Regions from separate parts of the Homo sapiens genome. Here region 2 is reported to be linked to region 1. The links are microRNA targets in miRTarBase. Many come from high-throughput screens and were not tested one by one. Region 1 holds a microRNA gene; the other region holds the end of a gene's coding sequence.
What was found. The annotated mature microRNA hsa-miR-3910 reads AAAGGCAUAAAACCAAGACA and lies in region 1 at 10,617-10,636, shown strand. An mRNA with a match to its seed (bases 2 to 7 or 8) in the 3' UTR can be bound and repressed. Matches are read on the target gene's strand: a 7mer-m8 pairs with bases 2 to 8, a 7mer-A1 pairs with bases 2 to 7 and ends in A, and an 8mer does both.

Region 1 (16,298 bases):
TTATATACCATAATTATATACCAACTTGTAATTCTTGCTGATTCATTCATGTTTATTATTCTTATCTCTTTAACTAAATCTTAAGCCTCATGTGGAAATACATGAGATGTCTTCTCTAGCCCTATAGTGCTTGTCACAGTTCTGGGTTCAAGGTTGGCACTTAACTATTTCCTGGCTGAATTAATTAGAACTCTAGTACCAATATGCTGCTGAAGCCAGATTGACCTGCTTTCAAACCCTGTCTCTACATAATACTAGTTGTATATCTTAAATAAGTTACTTAATCTCTTTGAGCTCTGGATTCCTCATTTGTAAAATGGTTTTCATAATACCTCTATCACAGAAGGTACTGTTTTGAGAATTATAAGTCAAAATATGCCTTAAGCATACGCTGCAGTGAAACAGATGCTCAACGTTGTTTCCTTTTTCTTCCTTCATCATGAGCTTTGTGAGAACCCATCTTCACTTCATAAGAATAATAGGAGTTAAAGGACAAAAAGGGAAGTTGTGGCAGATTCCAAAGATGCCTTTTTTCCCTACTTTTGTTGGGCTGATTTGGGTCCAGAAAATTGCACACTCCTTAGCCACAGCAAGAATGAACTCTTTTCTCTTTGCTCCTCCTTGAACCTCTTTCAGTACTGAAGTGCCAACATTTGAGCCTTCAGAAGATGGCTCCATGCAGCAGCTGGCTCATACATAGCAGCTCAAGGCACCTACCTTTTAGAACACTCAGGCTGTCTCTCCCTCAAGGACTCTACAACAACGATCCTGGCTGATTTTGTAAGCTGAAGAGGCTCCAAAAATGAAAGTAGCCAGATTCTGAGGATAAGGCAGAAATTGGAAAAAAAAAAAAAAAAAAAAAGTCCAGGACTGTGAACGGTGCAAGCTGCTGAAATTTGCTGCCTGGTCATCTTGGGATCCCTATGTGTTTCTCCTGGGGACTAGCATTTGGTAAATGTGACTCCATCACCCTCCAAGCAGCCTGTGTTCCCAGAGGACATGGCGTTTTTATGCTGGTGAAACTGTGTGGGGAAAGGGAGAGGGTGACAGGGTCTAAGAGGAATACTGTGACTTCAGTTCACCCGAGAAATGCTTGAGGCAGGGGGACACAAAAGGAGGAAAAGAAAACTTGCCAAGGGAGGACATTTAATATAACTGGTTGATGAATTTTGTTGAGAATATCCAGAGAGGGGTCTTTGGGAGGTGATGCTAATACTCGCATGGTGGTGGGGGAGGCAGAGTGAGGGTGCAGTTAATAATCAGGTAAACCTGCAGGCGTAAAATGGAAAGTGAGCCTGGATTGGCAGAGTCAAGACTCCGTGAGTGCCTCTTAGAAGGAGAGTCGGTGCCCTCTGCTGATGCAGACAAGGCCAGCAGGTGCGCCATCTTCCGCCATTAGGGAGGAAGCCGTAGGCTTTCATTTGGTACCAGCCTAAAACTTGTGGAAGGCAAGGCCAGAACAAACATGGTACCTTTCCAGCTGGGAGTCTTTGAGTAACACTTGATGTGGATCCGGAGAGGCAGAGTACTCCTTGGAGCATGAGAAAAGAGGTCCCGGATGGCACCTCTGCCTCACCCATCTCTATTTCCCTGAGCAGTTCATTTCTGGCCCCAGCTCAGAAGAAATGTCTTTCAAAGGAGTTCATTTCTCTTCGTTCCTCAAGCTCTGTTCTTTGGGGTCTTCTTTGCTGCCCGGATGGCTTCCCAGTGTTTTCCTCTTAAGCCACATATCTGGGGAAAGTTCTGGCCAATGCCATCTCTTCCACCCCTTACTCTTCTGGAGGTGCCTCGCTTCCCAGAGTGGTGTTTATGTCTGGGTTAGATCAGGGTCCTGTCCACATCCCTGGCTGGCCCATCCCTTGACCTGGCTCTGCCGGCATGGCGGTTAGAGTCCATCAGATGGCAGGTGATGGCAGGTGAAGAGGGGAGATAGCATTGGATAGGGTGAACGCTCCAGGCAAATGGCCCTGGGCTGAGCATGCTGAGGCCTACCTCTCCTCCCCAGGCCTTTAGCCCTCTGTGTCCCTCCACTCTGGAAAGTGCCATGTATGTAAGTCCCACTCTCAGGACTCAATGTGCTTTCACATGAGTGTACACGTGCACAAACACTTTAGAAGCTTATGGAGATGTGGCTGGAGAAATGCTAAGCAAACCTTCATGCCATCAGTGATGGCCTTGAAGGTGGTGTTGAGGGGCAGATCCGGTGCACCAGCATGGAGGAAGAAGAGGTGAGTCTGCCTGAGATGGGCAGCACAGGCAGCAGGACCAGTGTGCATCTGGCGTCTGGAGCCCAGGAGTCCACCACAGTCCCCCAGCCTCCACTGGGTCAACTTCTGGACAACACTCACCTCTCCAACTTTGCCTCTTTTTCTTTCCTATAAAATTAGGATATTAACTTTAGAAATTAAGATGCAGATGGCTTAAAAATATACAAATTTTGGCATGAGTATGTAATAATTATATTCCCTTGTACCTGAAATGTCCCTAAAATGAAAGAGACCCCCCCACCCCACCCAATTTATTGCTAAGGCTCGTGGCTATAGGTGAGTGAGTCTGAAGGGCTAGAGTTTACACAGCAGAAAGTAATGAAGGACCAGAGTAACCACGAGGGAAGGAAGTGGACACGTGGACTGATGGGGTCTGTGGGCTGGAGCGTTTCTGTTCAGCTCTCTGAACTGATCCTTAAGGTGGATGTTTAGATTTCCAAGTGGTTTGTTGCCATTTCTTTCCATTCAATGATTTTTTTTTCCCTGGAGAGAAAGATAGTGCTTTCTCTCTGGGAAATGCCTGATGCACACACATACAGGAAAACACACACACACGTTCACACATACGTTCACACACATGCACACAAACACATACGCACACTACAGAAAATTTAAAGCAATGATTCCTGTAGCTGCTACAACCTTCATATTTACAACCAGCTCACATGTGTGTTATCATTGATGAGGAGCAAACACTCTGCTTACTCACATCCCTTTGCAAGTGTGCAATGTGTGTGGTTTATTTATAACTGCTGGGGGAATTCCCGATTTGTTATTTGTAGGCATGTATGATTCTAGTGCAACACTAGAGTGATGTAATTTTCTTTGCTTAATTTCCCCAGTGTGCTTGTAATTATTGATTTACCAAATGAAAGAATTCTCATTTCAGCAGGCAGTCATTACTTCAGCCACTCCCGTCTTGGCTCTCTACCTAGATGGAGGAAACTGGCGAGCTTTGTGCTGTCCTGCATAGCATCAAAGGCCTGTCGAACTTCTTGGGGCCATGTTACTTCCCTCCCAGGCGCTGCCCCCAGGAGGAGCAGTGTTTGCTTAGGGCCTACAGGCCGATGATTGCATATATAGCACATGATCTATTTGTGTGTTTTCTGCAGTATTTTCATTAATCTTCAATTTCTACTAAAGCTGTACACTACTTAACACTGTCCATGCCAGTGTTTAAAATAAACTAGTGTGATTCCTAGGCACGAGGTGAGCCCCTTGCTGCTACACCACACCATAATCAGTGTTCCTTCTCAAACTCTGGTCCCTGGTCCAACTGCTTCAGCTTCATCTGGGGATGACATGCAAATTTTCAGGTCAAGCCCAGACTTAATGATTTTGGGACTCAGTGATCTGTGTTTGAACAGGCGGCCCTGAGCAGCTGCCACCGTGTTGGCTCTGAACCTGGATGGGGAGCCTGAGGAACTCTGGTCTAAGATGCACAATTGCAAAGGCCTGCAAGCCTCTCTGGGCTCCTTCTTCTGCCTCCTCCTCCCAGACAGGGTTGTGATACTTGCTCGGGTCTGAGAGGGGCTGGCCCTGGGAGCACCTTCCTCTTAGTGGATGTCACTTCTTCTCTGCTTACTTCTTTCTTTCTTTCGTTTCATCTAGCCAGCTGTTTCAGCCCTCTAGCACCTCTGGGCGGCCTGTCCTGTGACCCATACATGGAATTCCCTGAGGCTGCGCCCAGCCTGTTCCACAAGAATGTCCCAGTTTGACTTTTATGTTCCACTGCTGCTTTGTGATTTATTTCATAGGGGCAAACTTGCCCTGCCCCGGAGAACATGGGCAGGCCCTGTGACCTTTCCACCCACTCTTGCCTTGGCTTGGCAATTGGGATGTCCTTTCTGAGACAAGAATAAAGTCCAGGACCTGGATATGGGATCAGACCCTCTGCCCACTGCAGCCGGGCACACTGAGGGGAAGCAATGGGAGTGGACAAGGCACCATCGGCCTCTCTTTATTGTACAACCCATGCTTCACCAGTGGCCAAGGCTGCCTCCTGCAGGCAGGCAGAGCAGGGGGCTACCAGGGAGTTATACTTGAGATAGAGGGATCTTAATCTGTCTTTGCATCCTCCAGGCCTGGCAGGTGCTTAAAGTGCTGCCACTAACTACTTGCGACCCTGGGTGAGTTACTTAACTCTTAGGTCCTTTCTTCTGTGAGTGAACTCCATGGAAACTTCTGGGAGGGGGGCTCAGAGGCCCCTGCTTGGAGTCCCTTGGAGGCCACCACGCACCCAGGCCTCGTTCTCCTGCTGTTCCCCTCTCGTAGCCTGGAATTTTTAGGGCCCATGACCTATTCCGGTAGGTTCTTCTAGGCAGAACTGACAAAGTGCCCAACCACTACTTTAACTTTGAATTCTGCTCCAGGTCTTGAGAATCATGCCCCCAGGACCCAGCATCCCCTCTCCTGGTTGAATGTGGGGCATTTCCTCCCAAGCGTGGCAGGAGATTGCCTTTCCCCCAACTCTGCTACTGCTTCAACACTGCTCTCTCCTGTCATCCAGGCTTCCCTGGGTAGGAATCAGACTCCCCTCCAGGGTGTTCCCCAAGACTCTCATGCTCATGCTTCCCCTGGCTGAAGCCCCTCAGGAGACAGGAGTGAAAGAGACAGGGCCCACTTCTTCCCCAAGCTCTCTTCAAAACCCTTCCCCTAAAATCTTCTTTTCTCCAGCGCTCCTCCCTTGCTGAGGTAGAGGGGCTCAAGACTTGTCAAACTGGCTCTGAGCCATCTCTTTTGAAGATCTGAATTTGTAATTTTGTTTCTATTATGTCTTAGTGCTTCGGTTTTAACCTCCTGTCATAGCAGTCTGAGATTTGCAGACTGCTTTTTCCATGATGACACCTGTAAGTTTACCTATGTGCAGGCTATATTTTCCAAAGACAGCTACATCCTCATCACACCTGCTCTTCTGCAAGGTGACCTTGCCGTTCCCTAAATGCTGAGCAGTACCTGTATTTCCTGTGCTCAAATCCAGGCAGGCAAGAGAATCCATGTGAGTTCTGAGGTTAGGTCATGAAAGGTGATACAGCCTCCACCTCCAGGTTCTCTTGAAGCTCTGACTGACATGTAAGAAATCCAAGGCTGCCATGTTGTGAGGAAGCCCAAGCCACATGGAGAAACCACATGTGCTTGAGATTCCTGACCCTACCCACGAAGTCACCCCCAGCTTTCTGGTCCTTCCAATTGAGGCCCCCAAAATGATTGACAGAGCCACCTTATCGTGTTCTTTCTAAAGTGCCCACAGAATCAATGAGTATAATAAAAATAAATTTCTAAGAGCCTAAGTTTTGTTGGACTTTTTTACACAGATATAGAGAATTGACATGCTTATCATCTATATGGCAATGTCCCTGACTCTCCCTTTTGAGCTCAGATTCCTCAGAGGTCTGGGGCCTAGGCCCATGGGGATCAACCTCAAGGTTTCTAAGTTTTAATAATTCCAAACTTTTTCTTTTATTTCCCTAGCCCTAGGAATGGTAGCTGCATTTTGCAAATGCAACATTTGTGGTACCTCAGAGTTCTTTTATTGCCATTTCAGTTACCTAGTTAATAACTTTTTACTTATTTGCCAGTTGTTTGTATTCGATTATCTCTATTTAAGTAGATGTTAGTTTCTGTCCCCTGACTTGACTTTGACTGATACTAAAAATAGATACCATTTATTATTCTGGGTAAAGAATATCAATGTTATTAATTTCATTAAGTAAAAAAATCTCAGACATTAAAGAAGTTGTAAATGCAATGCAAATACACTATTTTATTTTCCTAAACCATCTGAGCGTGTTTTGCTCATTTGATGCCCCCAGGACACCTGAATCCTTCAGTGTGTATTTCCTACAAACAAGGACATTCTCCTGCATAATCACAATACATCCATCAGAAGCAGGAAATTAATATTGATTTCCTACAAGCTTGTAATCCACAGACCCATTCACATTTCATCAGTTGTGCAAATAATGTCTCTTATAGCAAAAGGATCCAGGCCAGGGCATGTGTCACGTGACTCGTAGTCTTGGTTAATCTGGAACAACTCCCTTTTCCTTGTATTTCTTTGATTTTCATGACCTTGACACTTCTGAAGATTACACACAAGTTATTTTACAGAATGTCCTTCAGTTTGGATTTGCCTGAATTTTTTTTTTTTTTTTTTGTAATCTGATTCAGGTTCTGCATTTTGGGCAAGAATCCCACAGAAATTATGTCATGTCCTCATAATACACTAGCAGGTAGCACCTGATCTTGATTTGCCCCATTCCTTACAATGTTCACTTTGATCTCTTGATTAAGCTGGTGTCTGCCAGCCTCCTTCACTATCAAGGTACTCTTTTTTATTTTGTAATTAATAAGTATTTTGGGGGAATCTACTTTGGAACTATGGAAATGTCCTCAATTTTTAATTTATTTACTTATTTATTTCTATCACTATGGACTTGTGCTTTCCTCTTTTACTCAATGGGGTATAATCTGTTATTTTCAGCATGTATTTTGACAACCAAATTGTTTTAGATTTGATCAATGGGAGCCCCTTCAAGCTGGCTTCTGTGGCCTTTTGTTAAGCTTTCAGTGTGCTGTGATTGCTTTATTCTTTCCTGATGGCACAAGACATTCCAGGCTCTTCTTATTCTTTCCCTGCCCTAGTACTAGAATCGGCCATCTCTCAAAGAAGCCAAGTCTTCTTTTAGTAGAGAATGGTATTTAAATACCAAGATCTGGCTTCTAGATGTGCTCATCGCTTTTAAGGTATTGCCCCTTCCAGACTCTTTCAGTGAAGAGAGAGCTAAGGAATATTTGTATATAAGCATTTACATGCCTGTATCCTACTCTGTGTATGTATGTATCTATCTATCAACCTACTTATATATTGAAAATCATAGATTTGTCCTAATATCTCAATTTCCAATGCAAAACTGGAAGGTTCATTCTAATTTTCTTTTTCTGTGTATTAATTTCCTTCTCTGACAGCGGGAAACTTGGCTTTCAGTGTCTTGAATACATTTGCTTGGTCAATTCCACCATACGTAACCAATCTCCCATTGCCACTGCAACCTCTTGTGCTGTGGACACTCTCCCCACCCCACAAAAATCACCTATCACATTAGTTTTCTAGGCAGAAATTGATTTTGTCACTGTTCTGGAGGCCAGAAGTCTGAGATCAAGATGTTGGCAGGATTGGTTTTTTTTTCTGAGGCCTTTCTCCTTGTCATGTAGATGGCATCTTTTCTCTATGTCTTCTCATAATACTATGATTTAAATGTAACCCTTCAAAATTCAGGTGTGAATTCCAAAGTGAAAGTATTGAGAGATGGGGCCTTTAAGAAGTGATTAGTCCATGAAGTCTCCTCCCTTGTGATTCAGCTTAATGGCCCTCATAAAAGAGGCTTCAAGCAGGGCTAAGCTTGCTTGCTCTTCTGCCTTCAGCCACATGAGGACAAATGTTCCTCCCTTCTGGAGGATGTAGTGTTCAAGGTGCCACCTTGAAAGCAGAGACTGGACCCTCTCCAGACACCAAATCTGCTAGCACTGTGACCTTGGACTTCCCAGCCTCCAGAACTGTGACAAAATAAATTTCCGTTCTTTATAAATTACCCAGTTGGTGGTATTCTGTTATAGCAACACCAATTGAACTAAGACACATGGTCTTCTTCCTGTGTGTGTATGGGTACTAAGGTCCTCTTCTTGTAAAGATTAGGGCCATCCCAGTGACATTATTTTAATTTAATTACCTCTTTAAAGACCCTATTTTCAAATATAGTCCCATTCAAAAGTATCAGGGGTTATGATTTCAACATAGGAATTTGGGAGGACAAAATTCAGCCCATAACACCCACCCTCTCTCACAGGTGAAAGTAACTGTGTTAGCTAACTACAGAGGCAATATCATCCCAGTACACTGTTCTCTGCCCCATCTCGTAGCTGTCACTCACCTTTGGGCTACTCTCCTACATTTATTGGGAACATTTCCTTTGTCTCCCTCATAAGTCCAACTCATGTTATCTTTTATCTAGATGAGCTAACTCCTATCTTAGTAGGAATTCTGTGGCAGGTTAAAGTTGACTACAAATTCTTTGACATCCTTTCCATATAAGAGTGGGATCCTTTTCTCCTCTCCTTGAATCTGGACTGTCCCATAACTGTTTTGACTAATCAAGTATGGAGGAAATGATGTTATGCAATTATAGGTTTAGTCTTTAAAGCTTTTGTTTTGGTCTCTGCAAGTGCTGAGCTACCATGTCTGACTAGTTTACAAGAGTGTATACATGGAGATTCTGATAATATATGGCATGGAAAAGGAGCTCAGCTGAGCCTAGTTGTCTCAAACAAGGCACCAGGTGTGTGAGAGAAGCAGTCTTGAGCTCCCTAAGCCAGACTAGCCACTAATTGAATATAAACAAGTGACTGACACATAGACCAGAGGAATTGCCCAGTTTAATCCTTGAATTCTTCACTCACAAAATTGCAAAATATCACTGTCATTTTAAGCCGCTAAATTTTTAAGTAGAACAATCTCCTTGTCTTTACTGGCCTTCGCCTCCATCTCAACTCTAATTCCACAGCTTTGATCCTGTCATTTCCTGGACCGCTTCAACACTGAACTGTCCATAGGCTGCAAACACCTTTCTATCTGTTCTTCCTCTTACTTACTTCACCATGCCAGAATTTAATATTCAGCAAACCTCATCACCCTAAACTCCTGAAGTTTTCTCCAGTCTGTCAGCTGATTCTTGGCTTTGATTTACTTCTTTTCTATCCTGTTCAAGCCACATAATGTATCATATCAATACTCTCTATCATGTTAAACTTCTGGGATCAATCCCTGCTCCCAGCCTGCAAATTCATATCTCTGGATTAGTCTACTTATTCACCTCTTTCACTTCTACACATAGGAAGCTGGAAGTTACTTGAGTCTTTGTTCTTTGGTTTTCTGCATCAGGTCCCTACAATGACATTTAGAAGATAAGACAGCACTGTCTTGTTAAGTAGGAATAAAGTTTATCAGGTAATTGAAAGGAAACAAAGAGAACTCTAAGTATCATGGAAGTAACAAGTGCTGGAAGCAGCTACCACCCATAGAACCTGGAAAACAAAGGAAAGAAGCTGCACTTCTTAAAACTTAAAATCTCAGAGGAGGGGACCCCTTGAGTCTGGGGCCTAGACCTCTGAGGAGAGGTGTCTGCCCAGCTTATCTTTTAAATGCCATTTTAGGGACCTGATGCAGAAAACAAAAGAACAAATGCTGGCATTTCAAAGTGTGTGTGTGTGTGTGTGTGTGTGTGTGTGTGTGTGTCTGTGTCTGTGTTTTACAGGGGAGTGAGACTGGTTTGGGGAATGTTGGGAGAACATTCAGGAACAAACTACTTATGGTGGAACAAATTACACTCTCAGAATGAAAAAGTAAAACATTTTTTTCTTTCTACTCCAGGCTTCAGTCATCCCTTTAGTGCCTTCTATTGATAGAGCATAAATGTGTTTGCAGAGCTCCTGCCCCAGCCTCATATACTGAAGGTAGAAGGATGGGCTTGAAGCTGGGAGACAGTAGCCTAACAGATAGTATAGTAAATTTAAGTAAAATACTTGTCGACAAACTTTGGTTTTGAACCCAAGATGGATAATTCTAAAATTGTTTTGAATCATGTTAGATGAATTTAACCCATTTATAATTATTATGATAACTCATATGTGTTATCTATTTATTCAGTCTTATTTTATGTTTTCTGTTTATGTTGCTTTATTTTAAAATTTTCTTTCTTTTCTTTCACATCTTTTGATATGTTTCCTTTTAAAAATCATATTATTCAGTAACTTGTAAATTAGATAGCTAATTCTATTATACTGTGTTACCTACAAATTAGAATAGCAATGATAACTACTTATTTAAAATTATATTTCTTTTCAATGGCAATAATAAAATTGGATAGGATGCTACTCCCACCAAAGAACAGAGGGCTCTGTTTTAAAGAAATTATGCTAAAACATAATTGGAAAATAATATGTATTCTAGTCTGGGAGTCTGTGTACCATGTCTTTCTCATTTTGACTCTTGGAGAGCCCAGTGTCAATGCCAGTTCCTTTTCTGCTTACCCAAAGAAAGCCCACCAGTCTATTTGCCCTGTCATGCCCTGCCCTGCCCAGAGCATCCAGCAAGAATTCCCATTCAGTGGTGAGACTGATGGAAAACAGACTAATGTTCTCAACAGCAGAGGAAACCACACCAGCCACCCTGGTCTTTTGATTTAACTAGAACTGAGCAACTGAAGACCAATTGGCACATAAGGAGAAACTTCTGTGATCAATCCTTTTTTTGTTGCTTGTCTTGGTTTTATGCCTTTTATGTGCCTTGATATAAAAGGCATAAAACCAAGACAAGCAACAGAAAAACTGACAGCAAAAGAAGAAGAGAATCCGAAGACATTAAAAATCCCCTTAATTGATGAATTAAAAGAGATTTTGGAAACATATCTAGATAACAAGAGCAAGATGTTACAAAAATGTGACAAAAAAACTGAGATCTTTAATAAAGAAAAATTAGGATTTAAAAAAAATTTCAATAGAAGGCCTGGAAAATCCAATGAGCTCCTTAGAGTCAGAGCAAAAAGAAGGAAAATATTAGAGAAGCAAAGGAAGTATAGAAAACCAATTCATCAGGCTTTTCAGAAAGAGTGAACAGAGAAAATTAAGAGAACAAAATTATATTTATTTATTTATTTTTTGTTGAGATGGAGTTTTGCTCCTGTCACCCAGGCTGGAGTGCAATGGCGTGATATTGGCTCACTGCAACCTCCGCCTCCTGGGTTCAAGGGATTCTCCTGTCTCAGCCTCCTGAGTAGCTGGGATCACAGGCACCTGCCACCATGCCCAGCTAATTTTTGTATTTTTAGTAGAGACAGGTTTTGCCATGTTGGCCAGGCTGGTCTCGAACTCCTGCCCTCAAGTGATCCACCTATCTCGACCTCCCAAAGTGTTGGGATTACAGGCATAAGCCGCTACTCCTGGCCCAAAATTATATTTCTTAAAAAATTAAAGGAAATTCCCAGGGCTGAATGATATGAATCCCCTATTGAAAGGGCATGCTGATTCCTGAGTGCAGTGAATGAGAAATGGCCCCAACTGATATACATGCTCATTAAATTTATGAGCACCAAAGGAAAAAAGAGGTTTCTGGAAACTCCCAGAGAGAAGTTAAAAAAAAAAAAAGAAAGACCCTTTTTAAAGGGATAAAGGCCAGATTGACATGAAACTCTTAAGACGAGGTAAAATATTCAATTTTTTTTTTTTTTTGAGACGGAGTCTTGCTCTGTTGCCCAGGCTGAAGTGCAATGGCGCAATCTTGGCTTACTGCAACCTCCGCTTCCTGGGTTCAAGCAATTCTCCTGCCTCAGCCTCCCAAGTAACTGGGATTACAGGTGCACACCGCCATGCCCGGCTAATTTTTTTGTATTTTAGTAGAGACGGGGTTTCACCGTGTTGCCTAGGCTGGTCTCAAACTCCTGAGCTCAGGCAGTCCACCCGCCTCGGCCTCCCAAAGTGCTAGGATTACAGGCATGTAATCTCTTTCTCCTCCTCCTCCTCCTCTTCCTCCCCCTCCTCTTCTTCCTCCCCCTCCTCTTCCTCCTCCTCCGCCTCTTCCTCCTCTGCCTCTTCCTTCTCCTCCTCCCCTCCTCTGCTACTTCTTCTTCTTCTCCTCTTTTTCTTCTTTTTCTCCTTCTTCTTCTTCTTCTTCTTCTTCTTCTTCTTCTTCTTCTTCTTCTTCTTCTTCTTCTTCTTCTTCTTCTCCTTCTCCTTCTCCTTCTTCTTCTTCTTTTCTTCTTCTTCTTCTCTCTCTCTCTCTCATTATTTCCCTACAGTTTCCACTCAAACAACTTTAGAGAGCACTTTTATTTCTCAAACCCAGGCTTTCATCTCATTTAACAGATTATCTGTTGAACATTTTACCAAATATCCTCTGGAATTAGTGACCAAATGATCAAGTAACATTAAAGAGTGTTGCTTTACTATTCTGTTGCCCAGAGTTTTCATTTGGGTAATATTTTTTTAGTGAGCTTGCCTGCCTTTAGAGAGTCTCATTCATCTTTTTCTAGTCTGACAACCTGTGGTAAATTTAGTCTTTAATATGTTTATGGGATGAAATAGACTGCATATTTAAGAGTTTCAAAATAAAAATAGCATAGAACCCTAAGGATATAGCTATAGCTATTAGGGAATAAAGAAGTATGGTATCTATCCTTGATAAACTCTGTCTCTGACTTCTTTGTGGAAAGTGTAATATATTTTGGGAGCATATGGCTCCATGCTAATGCTTATTAGCAAATGCCATAGCTTATATTGTTCTATGCCTTATAACCATTTCAAATGGCATTTGAAAGATACAATTTTAAAACAGCATTGGATGATATTCTTCAAGAGAAGGCACAATAAATTCACATAATAAAGCCACTCCTGCGGCTCTTATTGATGTGTGAGAGAGATTGGGGAAGGGAAGTCCTTGAGGGACTTCAGCCTTAGATAAGCCCTGTCATCAGATCTCATTCTAATAGAATGTAAGCACACTTATAACTGTTGACTTAAAAGGACTGAGTGGACCAGCAATGAACAAGAATGATGAGATTGGAAAACATAGAGCAGGATCACACTAGAATAGAAAAGAGCATCAGGAAAAAGTTGGAGAAAGATTCCTCTACCTCTATTTTTATTTTAAACTTTTGTGGAAGTGAGTGATTTACAGGGATTATTTGTTAGTACTTGAGAATGCCTGAGTGTTCTGGGATATGGTCTGACGCTCCTGGCCAGTTGAAATGAATGTGTCAACCTTAATGAAATCTCCATAGCAGTCTCTACTTGTTACAGTAACCTGTTCTGCCTATGTACACAGAGAGCAATTAGCCTGTATCAGACAGACACAAAAAGGTGGCGCAGCCCTGAGATGGAGAGGGTGTGCCAGGATAATGGCAAATGTAGGTGAAACCCTCAGACTAATTCTACAATAGGTCACTTGTTCCATCACTTTGTCCATTGGAAAGGAAGTGACTCTCAAGCTACATCTCATCAGGAAACCTGGAAGCTTCTTGACAAGAAGCCTTTGACTGACCTTCAGATGGTCATCTTGGCTTTTCACTATCCAGCACAGCAACCCCTTTCTACCTACTCTCATTGAAGCTCAGAATGGCTGCAATTTCTTGTTTGCCACACAGAAGCCTCAAGAGAGGTCCACTGACTCCCTGCATTCCAGATCTTCTCCTCCCATTCACACTTGTGGCAGCACCATCTTCTCATGACAGTCAGGGTCAATTAGTCCATCATGCAGTTAGTCTTTTCACCACGTGTGGGCTCACAGGTAAGAGCAGCCCAAAGTGCCCATGTGGCATTTGCAGCTGCAGGTGCAGCAGAATCCTTACTTGGCTCCTGGACAGAAGCACTGCCCAATGGGAACCAGGATTTCTAATACAGCAAACCTACGTTTACAGAAGTGGGAGGATTCTTTTTCTCTCCCCTCCCCTTTCTTCCCCTCCCCTCCCTTCCCCTCTCCCTTCCCTTCCCCTCCTCTTCCTTTCTGTTCCTTTCTTTTCCCTCCCTCCTCTTCCTTCCTTCCTTTCTTCCTTCCTTCCTTCCTTCCCTCCCTCCCTCTTCCTTCCCTTCTACTTTCCTTCTTTCTTTCCATTAGCCATAATAAGGTAGAATTTACCTGCAGTAAAAAGTACAGATCTTAAGTGTACAATTTGATGACTTGACAGCTATATATCTGTGTAAACACCACCTCTATCAAGATATAGAACATCACCCTCATCCCTAGAAAGTTCTCCTGGCCTCCTCTGCAGATTCAGGAAATAAAGATTTTCAAAGCAGTTCTTTTCCTCAAGTGGTTCACTACCTAAGTGCAGCAACAGGGCATATATGCTTTAGCCCCACTTTGCTGGCCCAAAGGTCCCACTGGATTCTGGTTTTTGAAATTTGATTAACAGAGTGTGCATTTCCTCTGCTACTCCAAATCAGATGCTCATAGCTAAAGACTATCTCTTGAAAGCATGATGGATGATGGCAAATTATTTTTAGTTTAATTAACAAAATGGACAAAGAAATCAGTAATCCCACAGCTGTGTGAAGCAGAGGCTAAGGAAATTGGCTAGCGCCCTTCATTCCTGCCCTACAAAGCCTGGGTTCTGGTCCTGGTGAGTGCTGAAGCCATTTCTGGGTGAAGAAGAATCTTCCACCCAACACGTTTCCTTCCTCTGCTTGCCCATCTTCCTTACCTGCTCTCAAAAGCAAGATCAGGCTACAGCATTTTGAAAGGCAGAGGAGACAAAGTTTCATCTCCTTTTCTTGAGATTGGCTCTTCATCCCCTACTCCTCACCTCCTGGCTTTCTTAATGGCCTTACTTCTTCTTTTTTTTTTTTTTTTTTTGGAGTCTCACTCTGTCACTCAGGCTGGGGTGCAGTGGCATGATCTCAGATCATTGCAACCTCCACTTCCTGGGTTCAAGCAATTTTCCTGCCTCAGCCACCCTAGTAGCTGGGATTACCGGCATGTACCACCATGACTGGCTAATTTTTGTATTTTTAGTAGAGACGGGGTTTTGCCATGTTGCCCAGGTTGGTCTCGAACTCCTTATCTCAGGTGATTTTCTGCCCACCTCAGCCTCCCAAAGTGCTGGGATTATAGGTGTGAGCCACTATGCCTGGCATCTAATGGCTTCACTTCTGACCCCCATTTCTCTCTCTCTCTCCCTCCTTTTCCCTTGCCAGACAAGGAATTGGCAAGCTGTACTTGGAGGAGCCTGGGGCCTGGACTGTTGGAGAAGGGTTTGTGCTGAAGGCAGGACCTTGAAAGAAAGAGAGAAAGGAAGATCCAAACTAAGGAAATGGCAGGAGGAAAAAGGCAGAGACAAAAATCTGAACATCAGACAGAGAGAGAGCCCAATGGTATACGTTTGGAGGGTCAGACAGAAACTTTTTACTTGCTGAGAGAGTTTGGGCAAGTTAGTTAATTTCTCTGATCACCAATTTTCACATTTGTAAAATGGGGAATAATTAATGCCTTTGAGGGTGGATGTGAGGATTTTTGCTGACATATGTGAAGTGTGTATGATGTGCATGGTGTTCATTAGATTATGTGAAATGACGGCTATTACTATAATGAGGCATGGTTAGAGCAACACAGAGACCAGCCTGGCTGAGAAAAAAGACGCATGTAGAATTGAAAGGCTCCAGTAGGAGCCAAGTCATGGAAAATTATTAACTAATGTAATTTCTTTAAAAATTATTCTCGACTTCTTAAAGCTTCTTAAAACTGGAAATACATGGAAGGTATATGGAACCTATCATCTCCATTTTGAGATGGTCAGATTTAAAAAAAGATAAGGCGCTAAATATTATTGCTATATTGTGTCTATGTAATGGGTCGGCATTCTTCGTTATTATGACGAAGGCAATGTAAGGAAGATGTGCTGAATGACTCTTGAGTCTAATGCAATATGACTTCCTGTTGTGATCAAAGGCTGTTTATCATGGTGGTGTTAGAGGGAAACTGACCCTAGGGGAGTGATGGGTGTGAAAGTAACTTCCCAAGGGCAACAAACTCAACAAACATTTACTCAATAAACATTAACAAGTACATGGTGAATGCTAAGCTCTCTGCCAGGCATTCTGCCATTATTCTACCTCCTCTGCAACCAAGATTTCTATCTAGAGATACAGATGGAAGATACCTGAGTTCATGACTGAATTTATTCCTATTTTAGTATCTTGTTTCTCCCTTCCTTTGGTATGAACTTTTCTTATACTAACTCTTTATTATATTAGAAATATCTCCCCCTAAGTTATGTTCTGCAATTTTGGCAGTTTTATTGATGTATAGGATTTTTGTTAAGTTTTAGTATACCTCTATTAAACCATCACCACAATTGACATAATCACCCAAAGGTTTTCTTTTGTCCCCTTGCAATCTTCTCCTGTTACCCCTTTCCAAGTTCTGAGCAAGTGCCATGAGGTAATGGGGGCTCCATTCTTTCACCCAGCCCCTACTTTTGGAATGGA
Region 2 (16,298 bases), not on the chromosome of region 1:
TTGACAAAACTTTAGGTAAACTAACCAAGAAACAAAGACAGACAACACAAATTATCAAATCTGAATGAAAGAAGAGACATCACTACTGACCTTACTGAAAAAAAGTTAAAAAGATTATAAGCAAATTCTATGAACAATTTTATGACATCAAATTAAATAACTTGAAAAATACAAATACATTCAACACAAATTACCAAAACTAACTCAGGAAGAAATGCAATAAATAGAAAATCTAACAGAAATTTAACAAGATACCGAATCAGGAATCTTGCCTCAAAGAAAAGCCCAAGCCCAGCTTGCTTTGCTGCTGAATTGTAACAAACATTTAAAGAATAAACAATAACAATCTTTCACAAATTCTTCCAAAAAATAAAAGTAACACTTCCCAACTTATTCTATAAGGCTAGCATTATTCTGATACCAAAAACAGACAGAGACATCACAAGAAAACTATATACAAATATACCTTTTGAATAGACATAAAAATTCTCAAGAAAGTAGTAGCAAAATGAATCCAGTGGCATATGAAACGTATTATACACTATGTCCAAGTGCTATTTACTCCACGAACATGTAAGGTTGGTTTAACATTCAAAGATCAATTAATGCAATACGCTATATTGGTAGAATTAAAAGAAAACCTATATAATCATCTCGATAAATGCAGAAAAAGCATGTAACAAATGCAACACTCAATCGTGATAAAAAAATTTCTCAACAAACTAAAAATAAAATGGAACTTCCTCAGCCTGATAAAGGGCATCTACAAAACCTACAATAGACATTATATTTAATAGTAAGAGACTCGGTATTTTCCTCCTAAGGTTGGAAATAAGTCAAGGGTGTCTGCTTTCACCACTTCTACACAACATTGTCCTAGTCAGTATAGTGAGTTGAGAAAAAGAAATGAAAAGCACATCGATTGTAAAGGAAGATGTAAAACCATTTTATTCACAGATGATATGATCCAGCCAAACTGAAAAAACTTATGCCCTGAACCTGCTTAACAAATCATAAAAGCATGACCCAAAACGATCAAACTGTTTCAGAATAACTTAACTGCATCAAAGAACAAAGCTCAAAAGTTCATAAGAATACAAAAATATGCAAGCAATGAAAACGGCAAAATTCACAGGGCCTGGCATCAAATCAAAGATTACTGGTTATGCAAAAAAAAAAAAAAAGCAGAAAAATATGACCCATAATGAGAATAATCAACAAAGCTGACTGAGAATTTCCAAAGATGTTAGAATTATCAGAGAAGTACATTAAACATTTGTTATCTATATTCCGTATGTTCAAACAGGTAAATAGAGGAATAAAAAATATTTTCAAACACCCAAATTTAATTTCTAGAGATGAAAACTACAATGTCTGAGTTGAAGAAATACACTGGAGGGACAAACAGCACACTAGACAATGCAGAAGAAAATATTTGTGAACTTGAAGGCATAAAATAGAAACTACCGAGACTCTGTCTCAAAGAAAAGAAAAAAAGAGCTCTCCCTCTCCCTCTCCCTCTCCCCATGGTCTCCCTCTCCCCATGGTCTCCCTCTCATGCCCAGCCGAAGCTGGACTATACTGCTGCCATCTCGGCTCACTGCAACCTCCCTGCCTGATTCTCCTGCCTCAGCCTGACTGGTTTTCGTATTTTTTTGGTGGAGATGGGGTTTCGCTGTGTTGGCCGGGCTGGTCTCCAGCTCCTAACCGCGAGTGATCCGCCAGCCTCGGCCTCCCGAGGTGCCGGGATTGCAGACGGAGTCTGGTTCACTCAGTGCTCAATGGCGCCCAGGCTGGAGTGCAGTGGCGTGATCTCGGCTCGCTACAACCTCCACCTCCCAGCCGCCTGCCTTGGCCTCCCAAAGTGCCGAGATTGCAGCCTCTGCCCGGCCGCCACCCCGTCTGGGAAGTGAGGAGCGTCTCTGCCTGGCCACCCATCGTCTGGGATGTGAGGAGCCCCTCTGCCTGGCTGCCCAGTCTGGAAAGTGAGGAGCGTCTCTGCCCGGCCGCCATCCCATCTGTAAAGTGAGGAGCGCCTCTTCCCGGCCGCCATCACATCTAGGAAGTGAGGAGCGTCTCTGCCTGGCCGCCCATCGTCTGGGATGTGGGGAGCGCCTCTGCCCCGCCGCCCTGTCTGGGATGTGAGGAGCGCCTCTGCCCGGCTGCGACCCCGTCTGGGAGGTGAGGAGCGTCTCTGCCCGGCCGCCCCGCCTGAGAAGTGAGGAGACCCTCCGCCCGGCAGCTGCCCCGTCTGAGAAGTGAGGAGCCTCTCCGCCCGGCAGCCACCCCGTCTGGGAAGTGAGGAGCATCTCCGCCCGGCAGCTACCCTGTCCGGGAGGGAGGTGGGGGGGGTCAGCCCCCCGCCAGGCCAGCCGCCCATCCGGGAGGGAGGTGGGGGGGTCAGCCCCCCGCCCGGCCAGCCGCCCCATCCGGGAGGTGAGGGGCGCCTCTGCCCAGCCGCCCCTACTGGGAAGTGAGGAGCCCCTCTGCCCGGCCACCACCCCGTCTGGGAGGTGTGCCCAACAGCTCATTGAGAACGGGCCAGGATGACAATGGCGGCTTTGTGGAATAGAAAGGGGGGAAAGGTGGGGAAAAGATTGAGAAATCGGATGGTTGCTGTGTCTGTGTAGAAAGAAGTAGACATGGGAGACTTTTCATTTTGTTCTGTACTAAGAAAAATTCTTCTGCCTTGGGATCCTGTTGATCTGTGACCTTACCCCCAACCCTGTGCTCTCTGAAACATGTGCTGTGTCCACTCAGAGTTAAATGGATTAAGGGCGGTGCAAGATGTGCTTTGTTAAACAGATGCTTGAAGGCAGCATGCTCGTTAAGAGTCATCACCACTCCCTAATCTCAAGTACCCAGGGACACAAACACTGCAGAAGGCCGCAGGGTCCTCTGCCTAGGAAAACCAGAGACCTTTGTTCACTTGTTTATCTGCTGACCTTCCCTCCACTATTGTCCTATGACCCTGCCAAATCCCCTTCTGTGAGAAACACCCAAGAATGATCAATAAAAAAAAATAAATAAATAAAAATAAAATAAAATAAAATAGAAACTACCCAAAATAAAACACAGAGAGAAAAAAAAAATCCAAAAAATCCAAAGAACATCAATGATCTGTGGGACAACTTCAGGCAGCTTAAAATAGGTAACTGGAGTCCGTGAAGGAGGAAAGCAGGTGAAGAGGAAAAAATATTTGATAAATTAATGGCCAAAAACTTTCCAAATTTGATGAAATCTATAAACCTAAATATCCAAGAAGTTCAATAAACTCCAAGCAGAAAAACATAAAAGAAAAAAACCCACCAAGGCATATTATAATTACATTGCTCAAAAGTGATAAAGATTAAAAAACACATTATCTATAGAAGAAACAAATTAAGATGACATCAGATGTCTCAAGCCAGGTGCAGCAGTGCACGCCTATAATCTCAGCTGCTCGCAAGGCGGAGGTGGGAGGATTGCTTGAGCTCAGGAATTTGAGACCAGCCTGAGTAACATAGCAAGACCCTGTCTCAAAAAAAAAAAAAAAAAAAAGGCCGGGCGCAGTGGCTCACACCTGTAATCCCAGCACTTTGGGAGGCTGAGGCGGGTGGATGGATCACGAGGTCAGGAGATCGAGACCATCCTGGCTAACACGGTAAAACCCCATCTCTACTAAAAAATATAAAAACATTAGTCGGGCGTGGTGGCCGGTGCCTGTAGTCCCAACTACTCGGGAGGCTGAGGCAGGAGAATGGCATGAACCCGGGAGGTGGAGCTTGCAGTGAGCTGAGATCGTGCCACTGCAGTCCAGCCTGGGCAACAGAGCAAGACTCTGTCTCAAAAAAAAAAAAAAAAATTAGGATGACATCTTAGAAACAACATAATTGAGAAGAGCATGAAACAATGCTTTTGAGGTACTGAAAGACAAAACCTATCAACTTAAATTCTATATGTAGCAAAAATACCTTTCAAAGATGACGGCAAAAAAAATACATTCAGACATACAAAAGCTGAATTAATTCATTGCCCAATAGACTCACAATGCAAAAAATGTTAAAGAAAGTTCTTCAGGCAGAAAGAAAATGCTACCTTATAGAAGTCTGGAGCCACACAGAGCAATGAAGAATACCAGAAATGGTAACTATGTGAGTATATAATTATTTTCTATTATTTAAATCTCTTTAAAAGAGGACTTAAAGTATAAACAAAAATAACAACAATGTATTTTAAGGTTTATAAAATCTACAAGTAAAATTTATGACACTAGCATGAAAGCCAGGAGGAGGAAGTTAAACATTTATACTATAAACTCTAAAGCAACTACTAAGATAATAAAACAATGAGGTACAGCTAATAAATCAAGGAAGAAAAAACAATGGAATCATTAAAAAAAACAGTAATCCAAAAGAAGGCAGAAAAAGGGAGAAAAGGGAACAAAGCATACATGGAACAAATACAAAACAAATAGCAAGATGATAGACTCAAACCTAGCCATACTGATAATAACATTAAATGTAAATGGATCCAAACATCAATTAAAAGGCAGAGACTGTCAAATTGGATAAAAAAGCAAGAACCAACTATATGCTGCCTATGATAAATGCACTTTAAACATAAACACACAAATACATAAAAAGTAAAAGGATGAAAAAGATATACCATAGTTAAACTAGCCCAAAAAAGCTGCAGCAGCTATATTTATACTAGACAAAATGCATTTCAGAACAAAGAATACAAGGAAGTTCATTTCAGAATGATAGTGGGGTCAGTTAACTAAGAGGACATGACAATCCTAAAGGTCTATGCACCTAGCATGAAAGGTTCAAAATCAATTAAATAAAAACTGATACAACTACAAAAAATAACAGACAAATCCACAATTATCATTGGGGACTTCGATAGTCCTCTCTTAATAACTGATAGAACAAGTAGGCATAAAGTCAGCCTGGATATAGTAGACATGAAAAACACTATCAACCAACTTAACTTGGTTGACATTTATAGAAGACTACTCAACAACAGCAAAATTTATTCTTCTCAAGTGCACATGAAACATATTACCAATACAGACCATATTCTGGGCCATGAAACAAGTTTTGATATGTTTTAACATATTCAAGTCATATAAAGTACATTCCTTTACCATAATGTAATTAAATTAGAAGTCAATAGCAGAAAGATCTCTGGAAAATGTCCAAATATGTGGAAGTTAAATAACACAGTTCTAAGTAATACAAAAATCATAAACTTTTTGGATAATAAGCAAAACGAAACAATAAAGATAAAGCAGAAACCAATGAATTAGAAAACAGAAAACAGAGAAAATCAATTAAACCAAAATGTGATTCTTTGAGATGATCAATACAATTGATAAATCTTTAGCCAGATGATCAAGGGGAAAAAGGCACAAACTATTAATATCAGGAATGACAAATGTGGTATCACATTGTGTTAGTCTTCCAACTTTGTTCCTTTTTCAGAGTTGCTTTGACTACATTCTAACTACTTTGCATTTTCTTATCAATTTTAGAATCGTTTTAACAATTTATACAAAATGATAAGAGGATATTAACAACTTTACAAAAATTAATTTGATAAACTACATGAAATGAAGAACTTTCTTTAAAATACTAATTACCAATCCTCACACAAGAAGAAATATAACCTGAATAGCCCTATATATATTTTAAAAATTGAAATTGTAGTCTTAAACCTTCCCACAAATAAAACTTACTGGTAAACTCTAAAATTTAAGAAATGATACCAATTGTACACAGACTCTTCCAAAAACAGGAAACACTTCCCAACCCATTCTATGAGGTCAGCATTACCCCGATACCAAAGATAAAGACATTAAACAAAAGAAAACTTCAGACCAATATCCTTATGTAGATGCAAAAATTCCAAGCAAAAATTTATCAAATTACATCTGCAGTAGGCTGAATAATGCCTCCCATCCTCAAAGATCTACAGATCCTAATCTCCAAAACTTTTGAATATGTTACTTTACATGGTTAAAGGAACTTTCCAGATGTGATTAACTTAAACATATTGAGATGTGGAGATTATCCTAGATGATCCCAATGCATGCAAAGTAATCACAAGAGTCCTTTTAAGTGAGAGGCAGGAAGATCAGAGTCAGAGAAGATATAAGGATTGGAAGAGAGGTTCAGAAAAGAGAAAAAATACTACATTGTTGGCCAGGCGTCGTGGCTCACGCCTATAATCCCAGCACCTTGGGAGGCCCAGGCAGATGGATCATGAGGTCAGGAGTTCAAGACCAGCCTGGCCAACACGGTGAAACCCCATCTCTACTAAAAATACAAAACATTAGCCGGGCATGGTGGCGCATGCCTCTAATCCCAGCTACTTGGGAGGCTGAGGCAGGAGAATCACTTGAACCCAGGAGGCAGAGGTTGCAGTGAGCGGAGATCGTGCCACTGCACAACAGCCTGGGCGACAGTGTGTGAGACTCCGTCTCAAAAAAAAAAAAAAAAGATACTACATAGTTATTTTGAAGATGAGGAAAGAAGCCATTATTCTAGGAATCTAAGCAGCCTCTAGAAGCTGAAAAAGGCAAGGAAATGGATTCTCCCCTAGAGTCTCTGGAGAGAGTGTAACCCTGACAACACCAATTTTGGCCCAGTGAAACTCATTTGGGACCTCTCACCTCTAGAAGTGTAAGATGATAGATTTGTGTTGTTTTAAGCCACAAAGTCTGTGCTAATTTTTTACAGCAGCAATAGAAACTAATATAACTTCCCAACAATTTATTAAAAGAATAGGCTGGGTGCAATGGCTCATGCCTGTAATCCCAGCATTTTGGGAGCCTGAGGCGGGCGGATCACAAGGTCAGGAGTTCGAGACCAGCCTGGCCAATATGGTGAAACCCCATCTCTACTAAAAATACAAAAACTAGCCGGGCGTGGTGGCACGCACCTGTAGTCCCAGCTACTCAGGAGGCTGAGGCAGGAGAATCACTTGAACCCGGGAGGCAGAGGTTGCAGTGAGGCAAGATCATGCCACTGCACTCCAGCCTGGGTGACAGAGTGAGACTCCGTCTCACAAAAAAAAAAAAAAAAGAATAATACATCATGACAAAGTGGGGTTTATCACAGGAATGCAGGATTGGTTTATCATAAGAAAATCAATCAATATAATTTATTAAAACTACATTAAAAACAAACCACAAAAGAAAAACCATGTAATCATTTCAATAGATGCATAAAAACATTTAAGAAAATCTAACATCCATTCCTAAAACAAACCCTTAGCACCTCATACTAGTAAAGGGCAATACAAAAATCTAACATACTTAATGGTTAAAGGCAGAAAGAATACTCTCCCCCAAAGTCAGAAACAAGACAGGGATGCCTGTGCTCACCATTCTTTTTTTTTTTTTTTGAGATGGAGTTTCGCTCTTGTTGCCCAGGCTAGAGTGCAATGGTGTGATCTCGGCTCACTGCAACCTCTGCCTCCTGGGTTCAAGAGATTCTCCTGCCTCAGCCTCCCAAGTAGCTGGGACTACAGGCATGCGCTGCCACACCCAGCTAATTTTGTATTTTTAGTAGAGACGGGGTTTCTCCATGTTGGTCAGACTGGTCTCAAACTCCCGACCTCAGGTGATCAGCCCACCTCAGCCTCCCAAAGCGCTGGGATTACAGGCGTGAGCCACCGCACCTGGCCACCACTCTTACTCAGTGTAGTACTGGAAGTCCCAGCGACTACAATAAGACAAAAAAAAAAATGCAGACATATATATTAGACATGAAGAAATAAAACCATGTTTATTCACAGAAGATATGATTGTCTATGTAGAAAGTCTGGTTAAATCTGCAAAAAAAGCTACTAGAACTAAGTGACTTTAGCAAAGTTTTAGCACATACTGCTAGAAAAATTGGGTAACCATATTTTTTTAAAAAGCATAGATTCATACCTTGTACCATATACAAAAATTGACTCAAAATGGATCATAGACCTAAATGTAAAACCTAAAACTATAAAACTTTTAGGAGGAAACATGGGAGAAAACCTTTGTCATCTCATGTTAAGCAAAGACTCCTCTGATGTAACACAAAAAGCATGATCCATAGAAAAACAAATTAATAAATTTAACAGCCATGGTGGCACATGCCTGTGGTCCCAGCTACTCAAGAGGCGGAGGTGGGAGGTTCGCTTGAGCCCAGGAGGTCGAAGCTACAGTGACCTATGAGCACACCACTGCACCCCAGCCTGGGTGACAGTGAGATCCTGTCTCAAAATAAGGGGAGAGATCTCCATACCCATATTCATAACAGCATTTTTCACAATAGCCAAAAGGTGGGAACAATGCACATGTCCATCAGTGGATGAATGGATAAATAAAATGTGGTATATACACACAATAGAATAATACTCAGCATTAAAAAGAAAAGAAATTCTGACGCAGGCTACAACACAGATTAAGCTTGAATACATTATGCAAAGTGAAATAAGCCAGTCACAAAAAGATAAATATTATATGACTATCAGGGTATTCAAATTCAGAGACAGAAAGTAGCATGGCAGTCGCCAGAGGTTGTGGGCAGAAGGGGTTGGGAGGTTATTGTTTAATAAGTACAGTTTTGGTTATGCATAATATAAATCATTCTGCCATAAAGACACATGCACACATATGTTCACTGCAGCACTATTCACAATACCAAAGACATGGAATCGACCTAAATGTCTATCAACGAAAGACTGGATAAAGAAAATGTGGTACATATGTGTGGGGATTATGGGAACTACAATTCGAGATTTAGGTGTGGACACAGCCAAACCATATCAGATGGTAACGTTTATGTTCTGTGTATTTTACCATAATTTTTAAAAATAAAAACAAATGTGTCAATAAAGCTTTCCCATAATGAAAAAAAGACACCGTTTACAGAATGAGAAGACAAGATACTGGCCAGGCACAATGGCTCATGCCTGTAATCCCAGAACTTTGGGAGGCTAAGACGGGTGTATCACTTGAGGTCCAGAGTTCAAGACCAGCCTTGCCAACATGGTGAAACCTTGTCTCTGGTAAAAATATAAAAGTTAGCCAAGCATGGTGGCCTGCGCCTGTAATTCCAGCTACTCAGGAGGCTGAGGCATGAGAATTACTTGAACCCAGGAGGCAGAGGTTGCAGTGAGCCGAGATTGCACCACTACACTCCAACCTGGGTGAGGACTCTGTTTCAAAAAAAAAAAAAAAAAAAAACACCCCTGTATCCAGCATATAATCCTCAAAATTCAAAAATAATAAAACAATCCAAAATATGCAAGAGATGTGAACACCTTGCCAAAGAAGATATGTAGATAGCAAATAAGCATATAAAATATGCTCAAATCATTAGAGGATGCAAATAAAAACGATGAGATACCACCACATACTTAATGTCAAAAAACCTGGCTGGGCATGGTGGCTCACACCTGTAATCCTAGCACTTTGGGAGACCGAGATGGGAGGATTACTTGAGGCCAGCAGTTCAAGACCATCCTGGTCAACACAGTGAGACCCCATCTCTATTTAAATGTATTAAAAAAATTAAAAAATTTAAAAATTAAAAAACTAAACTGACACCCCCAAGTACTAGAGAGGATGTGGAAATGAAACTTTCATACTGATGGGAATGTGAAATGGTAGAGCCACTTTGAAAAACAGTTTAGAAGTTTCTTAAAATGTCAAACATATGCTTACCATATATCCCAGCAATCCAACTCTAGGTATTTACTATAGATAAATGAAAACACAAAATGTTGCATACAAATGTTTATAGCAGCTTTACTTGTAATTGTCCAAAACTGCAAAGATCCTAAACATCCTTCAACTGGGGAACAAACAGTAGTAAATCCACACAATGGAGTGACTCAGAAATAAGAACTATTAATATACTGAGAAATATGGATGAATCTCAAATGTATTACTCATAGCAAAAGAAGTCGCTCTCAAAATGCTACATACCATATAATTTCATGTATATAACAGTCTTCAAAAGACGAAAATATATGGCCGGACACGGTGGTTCATGCCTATAATCCCAGCACTTTGGGAGGCCGAGGTGGGTGGATCTTTTGAGGTCAGAAGTTCAAGACCAGCCTGGCCAGTGTGGAGAAACCCCCGCCTCTACTAAAAATACAAAAATTAGCCCAGCATGGTGGTGGGCACCTGTAGTCCCTGTTACTCGGGAGGCTAAGGCAGGAGAATCGCTTGAACCCAGGAGGTGGAGGTTGCAGTGAGCCAAGATCACGCCACTGCACTCCAGCCTCAGTGAAAGAGTGAGACTCTGTTTCAAAAAAAAAAAAAAAAAAAAGACAAAAATATAAGAACAAAGAAAAAGGCCAGGCGCAGTGGCTCACTCTTGTAATCCCAGCACTTTGGGAGGCTGAGGCAGGAGGATCATGAGGTCAGGAGTTCGAGACCAGCCTGGCCAAAACAGTGAAACCCCATCTCTACTAAAAATACAAAAATTAGCTGGGCGTGGTGGCGGGCGCCCATAATCCCAGCTACTCGGGAGGCTGAGGCAGGAGAACCGCTTGAACCCTGGAGGCGGAGGTTGCAGTGAACCGAGATCACGCCACTGCACCACTCCAGCCTGGACAACAGAGCTAGACTCTGTCTCAAAAAAAAAAAAAAAAAAAAGAGAACGAAGAAAAAAACCAGTGACTGCCAGGGTTTGGGTGTAGGGGACTGGTTTTGACTACAAAGTAGCAGGAATAAATTTGGTAGGGAGAGGCTAAGAGGACTGTTCTGTACCTTGGTTGCATTGGTGGTTACACAACTCTACACATTTATCAGAGCTTTATAGAACTGTATACCAGAGTGAATTTTACTGTAATGTAAATGTTTATAATTTTTAAAACCTGAAGGCATAAAATAAGCCTACTCATTGTATGATTCTATTGATATGACAGTCATACTAAAGCAAAACTATAGGGGCAGAAAACAAATCAGTGGTTAGCAGAATCTGAGGGTCGGGGGTAGGAGTTGACTACAAAAGGGCCTGGAGAGTTTTAGGGGGGTGATGCAACTATATTTCGATTGTGGTAGTGGTTCACTCCTGTATATGTTTGTACAAACTCACATAACTAAAACTATAAAGAGTGAACTTTACTATATGTAAATTGTACCCTAATTGTTTTGAAAAATGAAGGTAAAAAGTTAAGAAAATACTTTTTTAAAAAAAACCTTTGAGATATGCTGTAGGTAGAGAAACTGCACTCCCAACGTCTTTTTTGTTTTCCTCTTTTTTTTTCCCCCTGAGACAGTCTCACTCTGTTGCCCACGCTGGAGAGCAGTGGCACAATCTCGGCTCAATGCAGCATCGACCTCCTGGGCTCAAGAGATCCTCCTGCCTCAGCCCCATAGGTAGCTGGGACTACAGGCATGAGACACCATGCCCAGCTAATCTTTGTATTTTTTTGGTAGAGATGAGGTTTCGCCATATTGTTTAGGCTGGTCTTGAACTCCTGACCTCAAGTGATCCGCCTGCCTCGGCCTCCCAAAATGCTGGGATTACAGGTGAGAGCTATCGTAACTGGCCTGCAGTCCCAAATTCTTACCGACATGACTACTTTAGTTCTGTTTGATTTTGGCCAAATTATGCTCCCATGCTGTTTCTTACTCATTTAGATACTTCCATTTCTAATATTTACCTCCCAGCACTTCTCCATTACCGATGGGGTCACCTCCTGATAAACCCGTAATTTGCACATTACAATGGGTTTACCAGGAAGTAGCCCCATCATAAGTAGAGGTGCATTCTGAATGTATACTGCTTTTCCACCAAAAATCCCACATCAAACCACCAAAAGTCGGGGACTGTCTGTATTTTAAATGCTAAATTATGAAACGCTGTATGGTTGCAAAATAGACTTAGCTGTCCTGGTATGCAATTTTTCATTATAACACTATCACATACCAGGAGAGTTCAATGAGATAGTGTGAAATAAGTTGTAGCCTATTCAAGAGCACATAGTTTTAGCAAGACACTAAAAACTAGTAGTTTAAGAAACTAGAGTTTTTTAAACCAAAAAAGAAAAAATTTAACGTTAAATGCATTTAACGGACTTGATAACAGAGACTGGCACAAAGTAGGGGCTTAATCAATCTTCCTTTGTTAAGGAGGCAGTACAATATAGAGGAAAGGGCCTGCATAGGGTTTTAATCACGCTTGGGTTCCAATCCTAGCACCACCACTTAATACGCCCACTTGGGTCTGGCCATCCTGTCAACTTTTTTTTTTTTTTTCCGAGACGAAGTCTCACTCTGTCCCCCAGGCTGGAGTGCAGTGGTGTGATGTCGACTCACTGCAACCTCCGCCTCCTGAGATCAAGTGATTCTCCTGCCTCAGCCTCCTGCATAACTGGGATTACAGGTGTGAGCCACCATGCTCGGCCAACATTCTGAGATTACTTTTTTTTTTCATTTGGGGAGACGAATCCCTTACTAGCAGAGCTGTATTGAGGGTTAACGGTGGTAATGGGTCTCCAGGGCTTGGTGCAGTTTGTACTCAACAAGTACGTAATTCTCTCCTTTGGTTGCCCCTGAATACAAGAGTGGTCTTGTACTTCCCTGCCTGAACAGTCCACAGCCAATGGCACTCCAGTCCTTGTCACATGGTTCCACTCTTAGGATGTAAATTAGGAGGTACCAGCTTGAGAGGCAGAGGCAAAGGTAAGGTTAAGATGCAGCTGTGAGGCTGGGCACAGTGGCTCACGCCTATAATCCCAGCACTTTGGGAGGCCGAAGCGAGTGGATCACTTGAGGTCAAGAGTTCGAGACCAGCCTGGTCAACATGGTGAAACATCGTCTCTACTAAAAATACAAAAACTAGCCAGGCGTGGTGGCAGGTGCCTGTAATCCCAGCTACTTGGGAGGCTAAGGCAGGAGGATCACTTGAACCCGGGAGGCAGAGGTTGCAGTGAGCCGAGATCACGCCATTGCACTCCAGCCTGGGCAACAGAGCAAAATAAATAAATAAAGGTGCAGCTGTGGGTCGAAGGATGGTGTGGAAGTTTGGGGTAGACATCCAAGACTGCAGTAATGCTATGCCCAGGGTATATTTTGGGGCAAAACCCCCAAAATACCCTGGCAAAGAAAGAAGATTGTGTTTCAGTTGCAATCATCTACCCTAATCCCTTTCTGAGGGCCTCTGGCACTGCTTGGGCTCACTGCCCTTGTCTGATGGGGTAGGATCTCCCAGAGGAGACAGCTAATTATACTTTAATGAGGTGACTTACAGACACTGGAAAAGGAGTTGGCTGGTACACTCCCATATATAGCAGCTCTCTCGAGGATACAGTCTGTGAATAAATGGTACCAGAACCCTCTTGAGCCATGGAATTCAAATGCTGGTGCAATAGGAGACATGGTCACACAAGGGCAGGGTCCAGCCAGAGTACTTCAGTTAAAGAGATTCCTCCAATTCACAATCTGCCCAGAAATGCCCCCAAGACGGGGCTTCCCCCTAAAGCCTCCCTACTAACAGGTGCTTTGTTTTCTCTTCACGCAAACAGGGTAGTGCCTACCACACTTCAGCACAAGCCAGGCTTGTTTGTTCTCTTCTTCCCTCTACCCTATCCCTAGAACCTTCCAGAGACACAGGAGGCTCATTACTTTCTACTTTTTCTCACTGCCACCCAGGTGAAGACCTATGGACTTGGAAGATGCATGGCCCAAAGCCCACTGCAGGCATGCCTTGCCACTGAAATCTCCTGTGGGGTGGTAAAGAAACCATCACCCTCCCGCAGGGACCCCCAGGTCTACCAGCAACCTAACTTCTAGTGGCATATTCACCTGTCTAAGAGAGTTTTGTAGGCAGAGTTTTGTAGGTCAGCCCTCAACAGGTGTTAGCACCTGAGCTCTGCTGATACTTCTTTTATTTCTCTTGTAAAACAGAGTAGGGGTTAAATAGAGGGTATTGGGTTTGGCAGCTGCAGCCCCTTGGGATTTTTTTTTTTTTTTTTTTTTTGGGACGGAGTTTCGTGTTGTTGCCCAGGCTAGAGTGCAATGGTGCCGTCTGGGCTCACTGCAACCTCTGCCTCCCAGGTTCAGGCGATTCTCCTGCCTTAGTCTCCCAGGTTCAGGCGATTCTCCTGCCTCAGCCTCCCAAGTAGCTGGGATTATAGGTGCCACTAAGCACGGCTAAATTTTTTTGTATTTTTAGTAGAGACGGGGTTTCACCATGTTGGCCAGGCTGGTCTCGAACTCCTGACCTCAGGTGATCTGCCCACCTCGGCCTCCCAAAGTGCTGGGATTACAGACGTGAGCCACAGCACCTAGCCGGGACTGTTTTTACTGGAGGAGGGGGAGAAGACACACAGTGGGGAAAGCGTTCTTTCAATATGCAGATGCTTCAGGGAGAACCAAACTATTTCACTGGTATTCCCCCGTACCACCGGAACTGGTGCTTGGAGCGGAAGGGAAGTGAGATCAGTCGATTAGTCACCAACACCATCATCAGCATTGCCAGAGAGGTCGAGAGCAGACATCATGGAATCAGACAGCTTGCTGGCGATTTTATCTGCAAATGGAGAAATACAGGCAATCTTTTGGTGGCTGGCTTGCCACCAGGAGGCCTGCTGACGCTGGCCTACATCTACCTTGGTCTACACCAAGCTCCTGAACTGGCTCACTTACCCCCAAACGCTACCACAAAACTGGTGAGTGCTGGAAGCCACTGCTCAGCTTCACAGGTAGACAATCCATTTTTCTATCTGTGAAATGATCATCCCAACACAGCTTCTATCTCAGGGTTTCAGACTCACTGGGCTCCAAGTATTTTTGTCCAAATACCAAAGCAATAATTTTCTTTTACTATGTCAAACTTAGTGCTCTACCATTACCCTCAAAACAAAGCTCTCACAGCAAAGGGCAACACGGCTGTATGTTCGCCATAAGCCTGAACGTTCACCACGCACACCTCCCATCCCCCAGACACACCCTGTTGTTCCTCAGGATGCCCCCCAGACTTCACCTCCTCCAGGAGGCCTTCTCTGATCACCCCTATCCAACCACCATCCCCAGGCTGGGTTAGGTTCCCTCACTGTGCTTGCTGGGTCTTCAACGTGATTACTATGTGCTCGTGCTGCCAAGGTCTGTTTTCTTGTCTCCTCCTCACTCCCTAATAAGACTAGGAGTTCAAAGGCAATTCATCTGAATTCCCAGGACTCAGTGTGGAGCCAGGCCAAGAGTGAATGTCTGATTGTGTATGTTTGGTTACAGAACACAATCTAGTTCAAAGAATAGGGCTGTTGGGGTCAATCAACCCAAAGTCTGTATTTTGGCTCCATCAACTACAAGTTGTCTTACCTTTAGCGTGTCACTTAATGTCTCTGGACCTCAGTTTTCTCACTTATCAAATAAGGGGAAGACTTTTGCAATGAGTTAGTGAAAAGTACAGCATGGAAACCCAAATGGGCCAGCTACACAATGTACCACCATTAAAACGAGGGGAAGAAGTTCTTTTGTGTATTAACATAGACATATCCCTAAGACATAGTGAGTGGAAAAATGATAGGGCAAAACCATGTGTCCAGTAGATTGGCATTTGTGTGGAAAAAGAGAACAAAGAATATATAGATATTTGCTTGTGTCTCAGAAAAGACACAATAAACTAACTGGCTGACGAGGGGGCGGTCTGGATGACTAGCGGGTGGGAGAGATTTTACTGTATATCCTCTTGTACGTGTAGGATTTTGAGTATATTGCCTATTGATATATAGCCTGCAAGCTACCTAACACATAGAGAGTACCTGATAAATAAATGGTCGTTATTTGATACATAGACTAGGCAGGCCAGTGGTTCTCCCAGTGTGATCCCCAGAGAAATAGCATCAGCTGGGAACCTGTTAGAAATACAAATTCTAACAGGCCCCACAGAAGACCTACTCAATTAGAAACTATGAGGGAGGGGCACAGAAATCTGTGTTTTAACAAACCCTCCAGGGAATCCTGATGCGAGCTGAAGTTTGAGAGCCACTGTGCTAGTAGTTGAGCCTCCTAGCTCATCCCTGCCCCCAACCCTAGACTGGAGCTGGACACAGAGAGATACTCATTCAGGAGCCCCAATCAAGATCCCAGGTGGGGCCACGTGCAGTGGCTCACATCTGTAATCCTAGCACTTTGGAAGGCCGAGGCAAGTGGATCACCTGAGGTCAGGAGTTTGAGACCAGCCTGGCCAACATGGCGAAACATCGTCTCTACTAAAAATACAAAAATGAGCCGGACATGGTGGCAGGTGCCTGTAATCCCAGCTACTCAGGAAGCTGAGGCAGGAGAATCGCTTGAACCCAGGGGGCGG

Region 2: miRTarBase lists GNL3L as a target of hsa-miR-3910. Seed matches in the 3' UTR shown: 7mer-A1 at 12,876-12,882, 7mer-m8 at 10,861-10,867 and 7mer-A1 at 10,188-10,194.

What each region holds. Positions count from the first base shown.
Region 1 is chr9:91,630,615-91,646,912 of GRCh38, reverse strand. MIR3910-2 (microRNA 3910-2) reads left to right here and starts at 10,568; the gene lies at 10,568-10,649. It overlaps MIR3910-1 (microRNA 3910-1), which reads right to left and starts at 10,662; the gene lies at 10,552-10,662.
Region 2 is chrX:54,558,741-54,575,038 of GRCh38, reverse strand. GNL3L (G protein nucleolar 3 like) reads right to left here. Exons shown (of 16, transcript NM_001184819.2): 16 at 7,750-14,519. The coding sequence ends at 14,437. Among named protein-coding and RNA genes, the nearest start is that of GNL3L, 37 kb to the right of the region's middle.